Homo sapiens: one gene and its partners. The main gene of each other region encodes a partner of the protein of the gene in region 3 in a complex. Each region holds a gene or a part of one and is shown on either strand. Other genes may lie near its edges.

Region 1 (5,248 bases), on a different chromosome or scaffold from region 3:
CCATCGGGCCTATAGTTCCCCACTCTACAGCAACCAGCAGTACGCTTGTGTCAAAGATCTCTGTAAGTGCCCTTTATGGAACATGAGGGAATGGGCAAGCCTAGAGATGGTTTCATGCCATCTCTAGCTTTGGGAGCCAAATTCTGAAACAGAAACTTTCTGTTTCCCATAATTCTCCCTCAACCTCACATTTTTATATCCATTTGGATGCAGAGGCAATATCCCCATTTTACAGCAGAGGGAGATACGATTTAGTTGCAACTACATACAGTTAGCAAGAGGTAGAGCCAAGACTGGAATCTTCAGTTGCTAGCTTCAGAATCTGTGCTCTTTGTGTGCAAAATCATTTCTAAGCAAGAACAAGGATTCTAGATTGTCCTCATCCTTACTACAGAGTCATATCAGACTCGGGGCAAGACCCAAAGGCTGCAGGCACCCTGGGCAGGTTCATAATTTGGCAACCCAGGCCGGGCGCGGTGGCTCACGTTTGTAATCCCAGCACTTTGGGAGGCCGAGGCGGGTGGATCACGAGGTCAGGAGATCGAGACCACGGTGAAACCCCGTCTCTACTAAAAACACACAAAAATTAGCCGGGCGTGGTGGCAGGCGCCTGTAGTCCCAGCTACTCGGAGAGGCTGAGGCAGGAGAATGGCATGAACCCGGGAGGCGGAGCTTGCAGTGAGCCGAGATTGTGCCACTGTACTCCAGCCTGGGTGACAGAGCGAGACTCCGTCTCAAAAAAAAAAAAAAAAAAAAAAATAATAATAATAATAATAATAATAATTTGGCAACCCTTAAAAACATATTCATTGACAAATTTGCTCAACATTTATTTGGAGGAGAGGCTGAACTCTGTGAAGAGCATGGGTGAAAAAGAAGAACCTATTGGTGGCAGCACCTCAGCTTACACATGCCATTTAGCAGAACAAAAGCCAGCAGTTAAGGGCCCATTCTCCTTAGAAGGAGAATAGTGATTCTGCGCATGTCTCAGCTCCCAAGCAAGCAAAGTTGTGTTTCAAACATCATATAATGCTCTGCCTGGAAGGAGTTCTAATAAATACTTTCCTCCCTCACTTTACATCACCAGTGATGTTTTTAAAGTCCTTTATAGATTGGTGTCCTGGGTATTGCCTAGCTGACCCTTCCCTAATCTTCCCCGCGGCGCCCCCACCGCCACCCAACACACACATGGGTATCCATCTACTCAATCCCACCTCTCCCTTCCTTTCCTCCAAGCCTTTCTCTGCCTTCCCAATAATGTCTTCTTTCTCCTCCCATTCGATTAGCTGCTGCCAATCGCAATGATCCTGTGTTTGAAACCCTGCGCACTGGGGTGATCATGGCAAACAAGGAACGGAAGAAGGGACAGGCAGATAAGAAAAATGTGAGCACTGTACCTCCCCACGAGGTCCCTCCCAGAGATCCCATGGAGCAGGTCATTTTCCCATTTGGAAAGCTGACAGAAGTAATGGATTGTCTTCCCCTAAAATTGCACAAAACTCGGCCAGGCATGGTGGCTCACGCCTGTAATCCCAGCACTTTGGGAGGCCGAGGTGGGCAGATTACCTGAGGTCAGGAGTTCGAAACCTGCCTGGCCAACGTGGTGAAACCCTGTCTCTACTAAAAATACAAAAATAAAAATAAAAAATCCGGGTGTGGTGGTGCTCGCTTGTAATCCCAGCTACTTGGGAGGCTGAGGCAGGAGAATCGCTTGAACCCGGGAGGCAGAGGTTGCAGTAAGCCACTGCACTCCAGCCTGGGGGAGAAAGTGAGACCCTGTCAAGAAAAAAAAAAAAGGAAGGAAGGAAGGAAAGGAAGGAAGGAAGGGAAAAGAAAAGATAAATGTACATATCTGATCAAAAAAATCAACTGCAAAAAACAACTAGAAATCTGGCCTCAAACTTGTTGATATGGAGGTTGGACACAGATAAGGGATTTCTATGGAGTGAATTAATGACTTGTAAGGCACTAGCAATGTGATATGGCTGCTTCCAGAAGGGCTAACATACTCTTGGGTTATATTCTTTTAAGGGAATTATAAAAATTGTGCTGCTCTTTTTTTTTTTTTTTTTTTTTTTGAGATAGAGTTTCGCTCTTGTTGCCCAGGCTGGAGTGCAATGGCACGATCTCGGCTCACCGCAAACTCTGCCTCCCGGGTCCAAGCGATTATCCTGCCTCAGCCTCCCGAGTAGCTGGGATTACAGGCATGTGCCACCATGCCTGGCTAATTTTGTATTTTTAGTAGAGAGGAGATTTCTCCATGTTGGTCAGGCTGGTCTCGAACTCCCGACCTCAGGTGATCCGCCCACCTCGGCCTCCCAAAGTGCTGGGATTACAAGCATAAGCCACCGCGCCTGACCATGCTGCTCACTTTTTACTTACACACTGGAGTATTTTTAAAGGCTGACAGCATAGTCAAGGACCTGGAATCTGGTAGTGAATTCCCTGTTATTTAGCTACATTCAAGCAGAATGTGGGTGACCCACCTGATAGGATGTTTTAGGGAAAGTCCCTGCATGGCCGGGCACAGTGGGTCACGCCTGTAATCCCAGCACTTTGGGAGGCCGAGGCTGGTGGATCACGAGGTCAGGAGATTGAGATCATCCTGGCTAACACGGTGAAACCCCGTCTCTACTAAAAATACAAAAAATTAGCCGGGCGTGGTGGCAGGCGCCTGTAGTCCCAGCTACTCAGGAGGCTGTGGCAGGAGAATGGCGTGAACCTGGAGGCGGAGCTGGCACTGAGCCAAGATTGCGCCACTGCACTCCAGCCTGGGTGACGGAGGGAGACCCGTCTCAAAAAAAAAAAAAAAGTTCCTGCATTAGGCAGATGGCTGAACTAGATATTTCCTCCAAGGCCTCTTCCAACTCTGAGATCTCTGAGATCCCATTATTCTATAGTTCTCTGACCTGATTATAGACAGCCAGGGCATGTGTTCCCAAGACAGCGTCTCCCTAACTCTGGTGCCCCCTCCAGCCTGTAGCAGCCATGATGGAGGAGGAGCCAGAGTCGGCCAGACCAGAGGAAGGCAAACCCCAGGATGGTGAGTGTTACCCACCTCCATCCAGAGATGGAGTAGGATCAGAGGCTCAGCTGTGGAACAGAGGGTGGAGGAGCAAAGGGCAGGCCAGCTTTGGATAGACGAGGCCCTTCCACAAAAGGGTAAGAGAATAAGAATTGCCCTCCAGGAGACAGACAATTTGTTGGTGTTTCCTATCCCAGGAAACCCTGAAGGGGATAAGAAGGCTGAGAAGAAGACACCTGATGACAAGGTAAGAATCCTTCCTCCCTGCAAGGAACCCAGTTCTCTCCCCAACCCAGCTCTGACACCACTACTCATGGCCCTGGCAGAAGCTCACTCTTTAACTCCTAGGCTTCCCATCACTTCTGACCCACACTCTCCATCAACTTGCACACCCACCCACGACCAAAACACTTCTCTCAGTTCAGGGACCTAGAAGAGAGTTGGAGTGTAGAGTGTGTGGTGAATGTCCCTGCCTTGGAATCCTGCCCCTCAGTGTGGGGTAGAGGAGCCCTAAGACTCATCATTCCCTTGCACCCCCAGCACAAGCAGCCTGGCTTCCAGCAGTCTCATTACTTTGTGGCTCTCTATCGGTTCAAAGCCCTGGAGAAGGACGATCTGGATTTCCCGTGAGAGGCCTTGGGGCAGGGGGCTGGTACTGCGGAGTGAAGAGGAAAGAGCTGGGTTCCCCCAAGGGAAAGGAAAAGGGGGGACTCAGGGCTTGGAGCCTATTGATGCTGGACCCGGGGCACAGCAGGGGACCTGCTATGTGAGTGAGGCCCCTCCCTTCCCCTCCCAGGCCAGGAGAGAAGATCACAGTCATTGATGACTCCAATGAAGAATGGTGGCGGGTGAGAGAAATGGCTAGGGCTAGGGTGGAGTGTGGGTTGAGTCCAGAACCCGACATTGAGAGATGGACTCTCCCTACTATCTTCCCTAGGGGAAAATCGGGGAGAAGGTCGGATTTTTCCCTCCAAACTTCATCATTCGGGTCCGGGCTGGAGAACGTGTGCACCGCGTGACGAGATCCTTCGTGGGGAACCGCGAGATAGGGCAGATCACTCTCAAGAAGGACCAGGTAGGCTGTTGCCCCAACCCAATCCCAGGCCTGAATGCTCCCTAGCCCACCACACTCCTTGGAGAGCTTAACCATTAATAAGACTAGGGTGAGCCCCTGTAAACCCCGGCTCCCCTGCTGTCCTCTCCTACCTTTTCCTTTGATTCCTCTCCTACTTCTGATCCTTTAATCTTCTAGATCGTGGTGCAGAAAGGAGACGAAGCGGGCGGCTACGTCAAGGTCTACACCGGCCGCAAGGTGGGGCTGTTTCCCACCGACTTTCTAGAGGAAATTTAGGCGTGCGGGCGCCTGCAAGCGGGAGACACCCACACCCCATTCTGGGCGGGCCCAGTGGAGTTTGGGGAGGGGGGCGAAAGCAACGGGACTGCTGGGAGAGGAGGGGTAGGAAGGCCCGCCTGAGCGCGACGGGGCTTCCGGGAAGGGACTGGTTCTCGCCCCCTTCCCCAGCCTGGGGCCTCGGATACCTGCTGCCCAGAGCAGCCCGGACCCGAAACCTTTCAGGCCCCGCTTGCAAGAGCTGGAAAAAAACGCGTATCTACTAGGAGGAGCCAGGGACTGGGGCGGGGGGCGGGGGCGAGGGAGGGCGAACTGTCGAATGTTGCGAATTTATTAAACTTTTGACAAAACTTAGAAAAGTTGTTATTTAACTGGGGTTGAGGAGAGGGCCTGCGGAGGGGTGGAGAATCCTCCCTAGCTGTCCCGCCTCGTTACCATCGGGTAACCTGAGACCCATCTGGGCTGAGGTTGGCGGGAGGTGGGAAGTGCGCCCGCCAGGTGAGGCCTCTGTAGTCAGTAAAGAAAGGGGAGCGCAGGGCTGGAGTCGCCGCCCCCGCGCCCCAGCGGTTGGGAGCAGGATCTTGTAGTAGGGTAAGTCCCCCCTTGCTCTTGGCGATTTAGCCGCAGGCAGCCCCTTGCATTTCGGAATCTGGCTTGGCGCCGAGCTAGGCCGCCAGGGGGCGATGCAAGATCTCGGTTGGAGAGCGAGGGATGGGGAGGGGGTGGAGGGTGGGTAAGGGGAGACAACCAGAGACACCAAGCCCGAGACCCTGGGCCTGGGAGGGGGTGGGGTGCGTGCCGTCTCCATGGCAACACTTCCTCAAGTCCTCCGAGAACCGAGCTAGCTAGGCCGGGGGCCTAACCCCACCCGC
Region 2 (7,018 bases), on a different chromosome or scaffold from region 3:
GGCGGATCACTTGAGGTCAGGAGTTTGAGACCAGCCTGGGCAAGATGGTAGAACCCCATCTCTACTAAAATTACAAAATTAGCTGGGCATGGTGGCATACGCTTGTAATCCCAGCTATTTGGGAGGTTGAGGCGGGAGCATCACTGGAACCTGGGAGGCAGAGGTTGCAGTGAGGTGAGATTGCACCACTGCACTCTAGCAAGGGTGACAGAGTAAGACTCCATCTCAAAAGATAGATAAATAAATAAATAATAAATAAATAAATAAATAAATATGTCCCATTGGGTGTGAAAAGAAAACTTTAGAACTTTTTGTTTTATCTTATCTGGTTTTATTTCTATTTTTGGGTTCACTGTAATGCACATAATTTATAAAACCCCCAAATACACATGCATTTGAGCTGTGCTCAAAAATTTATTTCAATGGCTATTTTTATTTTGAAATAATCTCATACTTTTAAAAAGTTGCAAGTATAATATAAAACCTTTTTTTCTGAACCATTTGAGAGTAACTCCAAAATGATGTTCCATCATCCAAAAACACTTTAATGCATATTTCAAGGCATTGTGTGTATTCAAGGCAAAATGTGTATTACAAGGGCGTTATCCTGCATAATTCTTCTATGTAACCACAACATAACCACAAAATCAGGAAATTAACACTGATGCTTTTTTTTTTTTTTTTTTTTTTTTGGAGACAAGAGTCTCGCTGTCGCCCAGGCTGGAGTGCAGAGGCATGATCTTGGCTCACTGCGACCTCTGCCTCCCGGGTTCAAGCCATTCTCATGCCTCAGCTTCCTGAGTAGCTGGGATCACAGGCACACACCACCATGCCAGGCTACTTTTTGTATTTTTAGTAGAGATGGGGTTTCGCTATGCTGGCCAGACTGGTCTCAAACTCCTGACCTCAAGTGATCTGCCTGCCTCAGCTTCTCAAAGTGCTGGGATTACAGACGTGAGTCACCATGCCAGGCTAATACATTACTACATTCTAATCCTCAGACCCCATTCAAATTTCATTTGCTGTCCCAGTAAATGTCCTTTATAGCAAAAGGATCCAATCCAGAATCAGACAGTGCATTGAGTTGCCTTATCTCTTTCATCTCTTCCATCTGGAAGAGTTCATCAGTCTTTCCTTGACACGATCTTGACACTTGAAGACTGCAGGTCAGTATGTCCCTCAGTTGGGGTTTGTCTGATTACTAGGATATGCATCTTGGATAAGAATGCCACAGAAATGATTCTGTGTTCTCATTACAAGCTATTAGGTGACACCAGTCTTGACTTGTCCCATTACTGGTGATATTAACTTTGCTCAACTATATATATATGACATATCCAATCAATAAAGATCACCAATCTAGAAGACTGTACTGAGTAAGAACACTTCTCAACCTGGAAGCCTGGGAAGGGCATGAAATTTCCACCCATGGGGTCAAGAGATGACTCAATTGGAACAATTAAGGTGTGGGCTATCCCAGAGGCCAGAGCAGGACCTGGTGGCCTCTCAGGTACCTGAGATATTCAATAACCCAAGAGGGAGAGTGGGGCCTAGGCTGGGGCTTTGGGAGAGCCCTGGGTACAGTGATAAGAAACAAGTAAGCCATACGAAGCGGTTCTAGCCAGGCACGGTGGCTCATGCCTGTAATCCCAGCACTTTGGGAGGCCAAGTGGGTGGATCACAAGGTCAGGAGTTTGAGACCAGCCTAGCCAACATGGTGAAACCCCATCTCTACTAAAAATACAAGCATTAGCAGGGAGTGGTGGCACATGCCTATAATCCCAGCTACTCAGGAGGCTGAGGCAGGAGAATCACTTGAACCCGGGAAGCAGAGGTTACAGTGAGCTCAGATTGTGCCACTGCACTCCAGCCTGGGCAACAGAGTGAGACTCTGTCTCAAAAAAAGAAAAAGTGGTTCTGGTCTCCTCTCCTGGGCTGGAGAGATAACTGAGTCCCTTCGTCATCCCCAGGCAGGGCTGCGGACCATTGAGGAAGAGGCAGCCCCCGAGATCTGTCGCACGGTCTCAGGAGACCTGGCTGCTGAGGAGGAGCTGGAGAGAGCCATGGTGGAGGCTGCGATGGAGGAGGGAATATTCCGGGTGAGGGAGAGCCAGGAGCACCCCTAGTGGTCTAGACACCATGAGTGGCAGTGTCTCACAGAGAGGAGGGCTGGGAGCCCAGCCACACGAGAGGGGGACATGGGAGCTGAAGATACCCCACTCCGTCTCTCCACTTCACCACCCACCTCTCCTGGGACTCAGAATCAATGACCTGATCTACTAGAGGTGTCAAATGCAACACACTCTTTCCCACATTTCCCTACCAAATCTCACCCCTTCCCTTTCCTCCCCACAAACCCTAGGCAACGACCCATCTCCCAGAGGCCCTCCAGGATCAAATGCCCTGCCTGCCTCCACTGAGGCCAGTCCTCCATCCTTAGCTCTGTCTCATGTTTCTTATAACACTTTATTGCTGGAAGGTCTTTAATGACACCTAGTTAGGTCTTTTTGGGTTATTCATGAGGAAATAGTGGCCCACAGAGATCATGTGAGATGTCCAATATCACCTAGTAAATCAGTTTCAGAGCGGGGACTAGAACCCAGTGCTGCAGACTCCCGATTCAGCCCTCTCTCCCCTACACCACACTTCTCTTCTGTGTGCCTGTGTCCCCTATATACCTCCTTAGGTGTGTGCTGTCTACCCCATCAAACAAAGAACTTTCTAAGGGTGGGAATTTTCTTCTTTTGATCTCACCACTCAGTCCATCCTCCTTTGGCCTTATAAGATTTGTCTCCCAATACTATTGCTTGTTCCCAATACCACTGTCCCAGAGTGACAGCCCCCCATGCCCTCCCTGCCCTCACCCCCAGTCACTGCTCTTCTCCTTGCCCCTAGAGGACTGGAGGCCTGTTTGGCCAGGTGGACAACTTCCTGGAAAGGACCAACTCCCTGCCCCCCGTCATGGCCAATCAGAGACCCCTCCAGTTTGCTGAGATAGAGATGGAAGAGATGGAGTCACCTGTCTTCTTGGAGGACTTCCCACAAGATCCACGCACCAACCCCCTGGCTCGTGCCAATACCAACAATGCCAACGCCAATGTCGCCTATGGCAACAGCAACCATAGCAACAGCCATGTGTTTTCCAGGTAGTGGCGGCCACTGCCATCCCTGGGTGTAGAGGTACTGGGAGGACAATGTCAGCAGGTTCCAGGTTGGATTGGAAGAGGGTACCCCAAATTTGTAGGGTGTCTTTTGCTTGCCTTTGTGCCCCAATCCATCCTGAACCTTAATGTAAGAGGCCGACCTCGATGGCAGAGGCTTCTTTGGCCAGCAGGGGGAAGCCTCACATCATGTCAGTATTGGCCCCAGTGTTGAGAGGTTCTTTTATTCCGTCGGCTTCAGCAAGTCTAGGAGCTGAGACGTATTGAACACATGATAGGTTAGGAGAGGATCTTCGGTGGTAGCACATACCACAAAAGACTGTGGACAATAAGATTCCATCACTGGATTTAGGTTCCAAGGAGATCCCGCTGTGCTGGGTGGTTCCCATCTCACCAACCTTGGGCTGTAGACTAAATATAATCTGTGATTACGTAAGTGTCATAAAAAACAGCAGGATGAGGGGGAGAACTTCTCAGCAATCATAACTTAGGGGCTAGGCTCAGGCAAAGCTTCTGTTCTAGACAGGAGGTCAGCTGATTGGAGGCCTCTTCGGCCTGGAAAGGCTTAGCCCCAGGCCTCAGGAATAAGCAGAACAAGGCAGCAGCCAGCCCCTTTTCATGGCCAGGGCTGCCTGCACCCCTTCCAGTCACAGAGACCCCTTAAATTCAGCCCACAAGCCTTGAAGGGTGCATGTACCTTTTTGGGTCACCATGGTGCAAGGTAACGTGGAAATACAGAAGCATCAGCCCTGGGCCCTGCCCTGAAGGGGGTTGTCGTCTTGTTGGGTGATATGTTATGTGATATGATTGGGACCAAATAATCACAGAGGCCAGGAGTGGTGGCTCATGCCTGTAATCCCAGCACTTTGGGAGGCCTAGGCAGGTGGATCACTTGAGGTCAGGAGTTCGAGACCTGCCTGGCCAACATGGAGAAACCGTGTCTCTACTAAAAACACACAAAAAATTAGTCAGGTGTGGTGGCGCATGCCTGAAATCTCAGCTACTCGGGAGGCTGAGGCAGAAGAATCTCTTGAACTCAAGAAGTGGAGGTTGCAGTGAGCTGATTGTGCCACTGCACTCCAGCCTGGGTGAGAGAACAAGACTCCGTCTCAAAAAAACAAAACAAAACAAAACAAATAAACAAAAAACACCAAATAATAACAGATATTTAGTGTCCTGAGAGTGCAGAGGGGGTATGGATCACCATGGGCTGGAAAGACCTAGAATGGTTCTCAGCCTTGGCTGTGCATTAGATAATCCAGGGAGCTTCTGCAAATCCCAATGCCTGGGCCTCACCACAGATGCTGGGTGTGGGACTCAGCCACCACTCACCTTTGAGCTCCTCAGGTGATCCTATGTGTGGCCAAGATGGAGAAGCAGGGTTCCAAAGGCTGGGAGGCTGCAGCTGGGCCTTGGAAGATGAACAGAATGTAGAAAGGGTAGAGGGAGCAACTGAGCAAAGGAGTGGAGTCAGGAATGCTCTGGACTCCTTCCTCCTAGAGAGTCAGGGCTGGCTGGGGCACAGTGGTGGAAACGTCAGCCCTAGAGTCACGGCTGCTACACTAGGTTGGCCTTGTACAGGCTCTGAGGGAAAAGGATGTTTGGGGCCAGAGAGGCAGGGATGCCGAGAGAGCTAGCAGCCTTCTCTGGTTCACCCAGCCTTGCTTCCATTTCAGTGTCCACTATGAAAGGGAGTTCCCAGAAGAGACAGAGACGCCTGCTACCAGAGGACGAGCCCTTGGCCAACCCTGCAGGGTCCTGGGTCAGTCCCTTCTGTGCATCTAAGAAGCTTGAGTCTTCTCCCAGAGGAGTCCGGGAAGCCCCACTCTTTTCTTAGAGTCTGGGAACTTGGCTGGGAGGGCTGGCTTGGGAGCCTGTTACAATGGCAGTCATCTGGGCCCTGGAATGGGAAAACCATCAGGACCAGCTACTTGTCCAGGGGGGAAGCAGGGCACCATCTAGGTGGCTGAGTGAGGTGGAAGGGGGAAAGCCCATTCATGCTAAAGGGCCCTCTGCAGGCCTCCCAGGAAACTCACACAGCCCCCTACACCATCCCCAGCACAGGAGTCCCCACACCGCCCCAGGTCCCTGGAAGGGCAGCCCCTGGACACACTGACGTCTTGACTCTGGGGCCCTTCTGCAAATGATCTTGTAGTCTAGTATGTCCTAGACTGCTGTGTGACAGTAGGAGCCCCAAGGATGCTGGGGGCTAGTGGCAATAAGGATACTGCTGTGTTCCCCAACACACTTTCACTTTAATGTGCACACACCCAGGGACCACAGAGGACCAGCTTGGCCAGAGACTCTGGCCCTTATCCCCTCTCCCAAACCTTCAAGAACAGCGACCAGGGCCAGTAAAGTTGGGGCAGCCCTGCCTGGCCTGGAGTTGATTGGGCCTCATCATGTGTCCACCCTCTAAGACACCTTCTGCAGCCCTGAGAATCTCAGAGCTCTCACAGAGTGTGGCTAGCCAGCCAAGCGAGCCTCTGTTGACTCAGGGCTCCTGGCAGGAGTCAGCAGCCCCTCTTATCCTTGCCCCTTCTTGCATACAGGACCCCACAGCAAACCCTGTGTGGAGATGCTGAAGGGACTGCTGACCCAGAGGGCAATGCCCAGAGGCCAGGCACCTCCTGCCCCCTGCCAGGTAACAGTGGCAGAGGCCTGGGAGCAAACTCCATACAGAGACCCTGCCTGGCCTGATACTTGGAGTGGGATCATGGCAGGGGAAGGCTGTGGCAGCAATGTGTCCAACAGTACAGAAGGGACGGGATCCCTCCATCCTCCCCTTTCTGTGGATCTTGGTTGAGTTGCCCTCAGATGATCTGGAATTTTGCTCATTGGTGGGCTCCAGCACCCCTGTCGGGGTCTTTGCTTTTGTACCTTTGGAACAGTGCCCCAGGGTGGAGTCCTCCATGCCTGAGGACAGAAAGAGCTCCACACCAGGGTCTCTTCATGAGGAGACACCCCACAGCAGGAGCACCAGGGAGAATACTTCCAGGTGCTCAGCACCAGCTACAGCCCTGCTGATCCAAAAGGTGAGCCAGGGGCTGGGTCACAGCAGTGGCTGCATTGAGTGGTGGCCCTGTGATGGCCTGGCGTGGAGAGAGGGTAGGGCCAACAGAGGCAGGTCCCCAAATGTGGCTCCCCAGGAAGACCCCACTCAGCCTACTCTCCTCCCTGCAGGCTCTGGTTCGAGGGGGCCTGGGCACCTTGGCAGCTGATGCAAACTTCATCATGGCAACAGGCCAGGCCCTGGCAGATGCCTGCCAAATGGAACCAGAGGAAGTGGAGATCATGGCAACAGAGCTACTGAAAGGACGAGAGGCCCCAGAGGGCATGGCCAGCTCCCTGGGATGCCTGAACCTCGGGTCCTCCCTGGGCAGCCTCGACCAACACCAGGGCTCCCAGGAGACCCTTATTCCTCCAAGGCTGTGATGCCCACACAGCATCAGCATGGGCTTAGAGCTGGCATGACCAATGGGGGTGGGGAAGTTGCTGGGGTGGAGAAGGGCTAGCCCACCGCAGCAGCCTCCCTCCCTCTCAGCAGCTAGATGCATGGCCTGAGGCAGGGTGGTCAGGAACCACCTCAAAAAGTGCGGAGGAAGTAGCTGGACAGGCCCTGCCCCTCACCAGCAAGAGGCATGATTGGATGGAGCTTCTAATGTCATTCAAAAAGGCCTGGTCAGTGCCTGTCTGGCCTAGGGCCACTCCCACCTGCAGGACATTAAAATCTCCAGGCCTGTGACACTGGCAACTGGCCTCTGCTTGTCCAGTTTTTTGGACTCTTCTACACCTGTGTTTCCCCCTCCCCAGTCCCTTCCCCAGGAACCCTGCCCATGGGCTTGGGAGACTGGGCT
Region 3 (2,861 bases):
TGTGGGCCATACAGCAAGAGGGGGCAGGCCAGGTGTGGCCTATGGGCCATAGTTTGCCAAACCCTGCCCTAGAAGCGTGAACTCCAGTGGGTTCTCCGGGGTGCAAGGCAAGGATCCCATCTGCCGATCATGTCTGAACTCCACTTTGGAAGCCTGGGCAAGTACTGCGGGGTTTTGGAAGGCAGAAGAGTGCAAATCATGGCTCTCCATGTGGCCCTAAGTGTCTAACTGCTAAGCCCTGCTTCCTGATGTTCTTCACAAGAAAAATCCAACATCAGAAATCAGACACTGGCTGGCTGCTTTAGCGCTGTGTTGGCACCAGGTGCGTTGCATGCCAGGCTCTAGAAATAACCCCTCCTATTTTTAACACCCTTGCTTCATCAGAGGGTTTCTAGTTTCTCCCGAAAACAATCTCAGGGCCTAGAGATACGAGTTGGAATTCAGAGCCTCTAAGCCACGTGCGTTGCCCTCTTGTCCCCACAAAAGACCTCAACATACCCGGGTGACCGGCCTTTCCTTCTCATTCGGCGTCAGGGGAGCCCCTGATGTGACTGGGAATCCGAGCGATTTCTATGCAAGGCTCCAGGAAAGCATGAGTTTTCTGAGAGCTTTTTATTTCAAGCCACAGTCAGATTCTACCCAGTTAAAAATGCTTCCCAGGGCTCCTGGAAGCCAAGGAGGGGACGCTGGGCTCACCAGAGAGGGTGTGTTTTATCACCGAGAAAGAGACAGGCTGGCTATTTACACGGAACACCCAGCTGGCAAACACAGGTTGTCCCTGCAATGTTCATAAAGGACAACTGGAGGCAGCTTATCAGAGGCTGGTACAGTGGGGACACCTCTGAGCTCCAGGGGAAGTTGGGCCCCTGCAAACACCTGTCCACCTGCTGGCTCTGCCTCCCCCAACTGTGGCCAGGTTAGGACTCACGTCTTGCTCTATTCCCAGGGGAGCCTGCGGCAGCCCAGAGGAACTCAGAGAGAGGAAGCAGCCTGCGACTGTTGCAGGGGGGCAGATGGGAGCAGGGTGGGGCTAAAATTGCTCCCGCCTCCTCTCTGGAAGGTTCCAGGCCAAGACCCCGCTTCCTGGGGAAGAAGCCTGAGGGTCGCTAGGGCCGCAGGAGGGTTAGTGCTCGGGCTCAGCATCCATGCAGGACTCCCATGGGTTCCGGGGCATTCGAGGCAGGGAGAACAGCAGGAGGGCGAGACCGCCGAGAAAGAGGAGGATGAAGGCGGCACAGGCGCAGGCAAAGGACCAGGAGTAATAGTACTCGATCCAGACGGTGTCCTCACTGTCAATCATGCGCTTCACCGACTGCCGCATGACCTCCACCGAGACGAGGATGCAGAGACCTGGGGGCAGAGCCAGGCATGCTCAGGGACCGAGGGGCGTCTGCCGTAGCCACCAGCCCCATCCCAGCCTGTGTGCATGGAGGAGGCGGTGACCTTGCCTTGGGGGAAAAGCTGCCTCAAGGCAGGTTCTAGATGGGAACCTGCAGAAGGATCCATTTGTCCACCCACCACCCTATTCCTGCATCCCTCAGAAGGGCAACCATGTGGCCAGGTGTGGTGGCTCACACCTGTAATCCCAGCACTTTGGGAGGCTGAGGCAGGAGGATCGCTTGAGGCCAGGAGTTTGAGACCAGCCTGGCAACATAGTGATGAGCCCTCCGTCTCTACAAAAAATTAAAATACAATGAAAAATTAGCCAGGTGTGGTGGTGCACGTCTGTAGTCCCAGCTACTAGGAGGCTGGGGCGGGAGGAACCCTTGAACCCAGGAGTTCGAGGCTGCAGTGAGCTGTGATTGTGCCACTGCACTCCAGCCTGGATGACAGAGCGAGACCCTCTTCCTCATCCCCCAAGAAAAAGAAAGAAAGGTGACCACGTTTCTTTCCTTCTTTTGTTAATCATTCTCTGGGCAGTTTCTTTGGGGCCTTGAGGGTTGAGTCGTGGAGAGGAATGGACAAACCGCCAAGCTCTGTCTCCCTCCAACCCACCTGGAGTCGCTGATGGCCTGGCCAGGTTTGCCCCTGGATGGGGATGGAGCCTGGGAAATGCCCCTCACCCAAATCTCGCGGTGGGCATGAGGGTGGAGCGGAGAATCCCCCGCGACATGGTCCCCCGGCCCCGGCGCTCAGGCAGATCCCCCAGTCTACCTGCAAAGGCATAGAACATGGACGCGGGTCGCAGCAGATAGTCCCTCTTCTTCCCGAGGGACAGGAGGACACAGAGGCTGCCCAGGATGATGAAGCCAAGGCTGAAGATGGCGATGGCGGCTGCCGAGATGCTGTACTCTGCAAACACAAGGGACACCCAGCATGCGGCCTCAGCATGGGAGCTCTTGTCATGGCTCGTTAGGGACCACACCATGCACCACAGTGTGTGTGTCAGTGTCTGTGTGTGTCATTGTGTGTGTGTCAAGTGTGTGTCTCTGTGTCTGTCTTGTGTGTGTCATTGTATGTGTGTATCTGTGTGTGTGTCAGTGTCTGTGTGTGTCATTGTGTGTCATGCATATGTGTCAGTGTGTGTCTCTGTGTCTGTCATTGTACGTGTGTGTCAGTGTGTGTCTCTGTGTCTGTGTCATTGTACGTGTGTGTCAGTGTGTGTCTGTGTGTGTCACTGTGTGTCATTTTGTGTGTCATCATGCATGTGTATCAGTGTGTGTCTGTGTCACTGTGTGTCATTTTGTGTGTCATCATGCGTGTGTGTCAGTGTCTCTGTGCGTCTGTGTCTTGTGTGTGTCGTGTGTGTGTATCTGTGTTGTGTGTGTCTGTGTGTGTCAGTGTGTGTCTGTGTGTCTGCCCACTCACCCTGTGTGCAGCTGTCTGGGCGCAGGCAGGCACGGGTCTGTACTCCCGACAAT

Evidence for each region.
Region 1: CACNG1 (region 3) and STAC3 share a complex: the UniProt entries of both Homo sapiens proteins name them as parts of the calcium channel complex.
Region 2: CACNG1 (region 3) and CACNA1S share a complex: the UniProt entries of both Homo sapiens proteins name them as parts of the calcium channel complex.

Annotation. Positions count from the first base shown.
Region 1 is NC_000012.12:57,242,940-57,248,187, reverse strand, and holds the end of STAC3 (SH3 and cysteine-rich domain-containing protein 3), read left to right. Parts: coding exon 1-62; intron 63-1,286; coding exon 1,287-1,384; intron 1,385-2,976; coding exon 2,977-3,043; intron 3,044-3,222; coding exon 3,223-3,272; intron 3,273-3,565; coding exon 3,566-3,651; intron 3,652-3,821; coding exon 3,822-3,873; intron 3,874-3,962; coding exon 3,963-4,100; intron 4,101-4,277; coding exon 4,278-4,376; 3' UTR 4,377-4,730; downstream 4,731-5,248. UniProt on the Homo sapiens protein: Required for normal excitation-contraction coupling in skeletal muscle and for normal muscle contraction in response to membrane depolarization. Required for normal Ca(2+) release from the sarcplasmic reticulum, which ultimately leads to muscle contraction.
Region 2 is NC_000001.11:201,039,409-201,046,426, reverse strand, and holds the end of CACNA1S (voltage-dependent L-type calcium channel subunit alpha-1S), read left to right. Parts: intron 1-1,970; coding exon 1,971-2,099; intron 2,100-2,895; coding exon 2,896-3,146; intron 3,147-4,837; coding exon 4,838-4,923; intron 4,924-5,713; coding exon 5,714-5,805; intron 5,806-6,052; coding exon 6,053-6,196; intron 6,197-6,344; coding exon 6,345-6,596; 3' UTR 6,597-6,915; downstream 6,916-7,018. UniProt on the Homo sapiens protein: Pore-forming, alpha-1S subunit of the voltage-gated calcium channel that gives rise to L-type calcium currents in skeletal muscle.
Region 3 is NC_000017.11:67,054,534-67,057,394, reverse strand, and holds the end of CACNG1 (voltage-dependent calcium channel gamma-1 subunit), read right to left. Parts: intron 2,293-2,861; coding exon 2,155-2,292; intron 1,351-2,154; coding exon 1,124-1,350; 3' UTR 598-1,123; downstream 1-597. UniProt on the Homo sapiens protein: Regulatory subunit of the voltage-gated calcium channel that gives rise to L-type calcium currents in skeletal muscle. Regulates channel inactivation kinetics.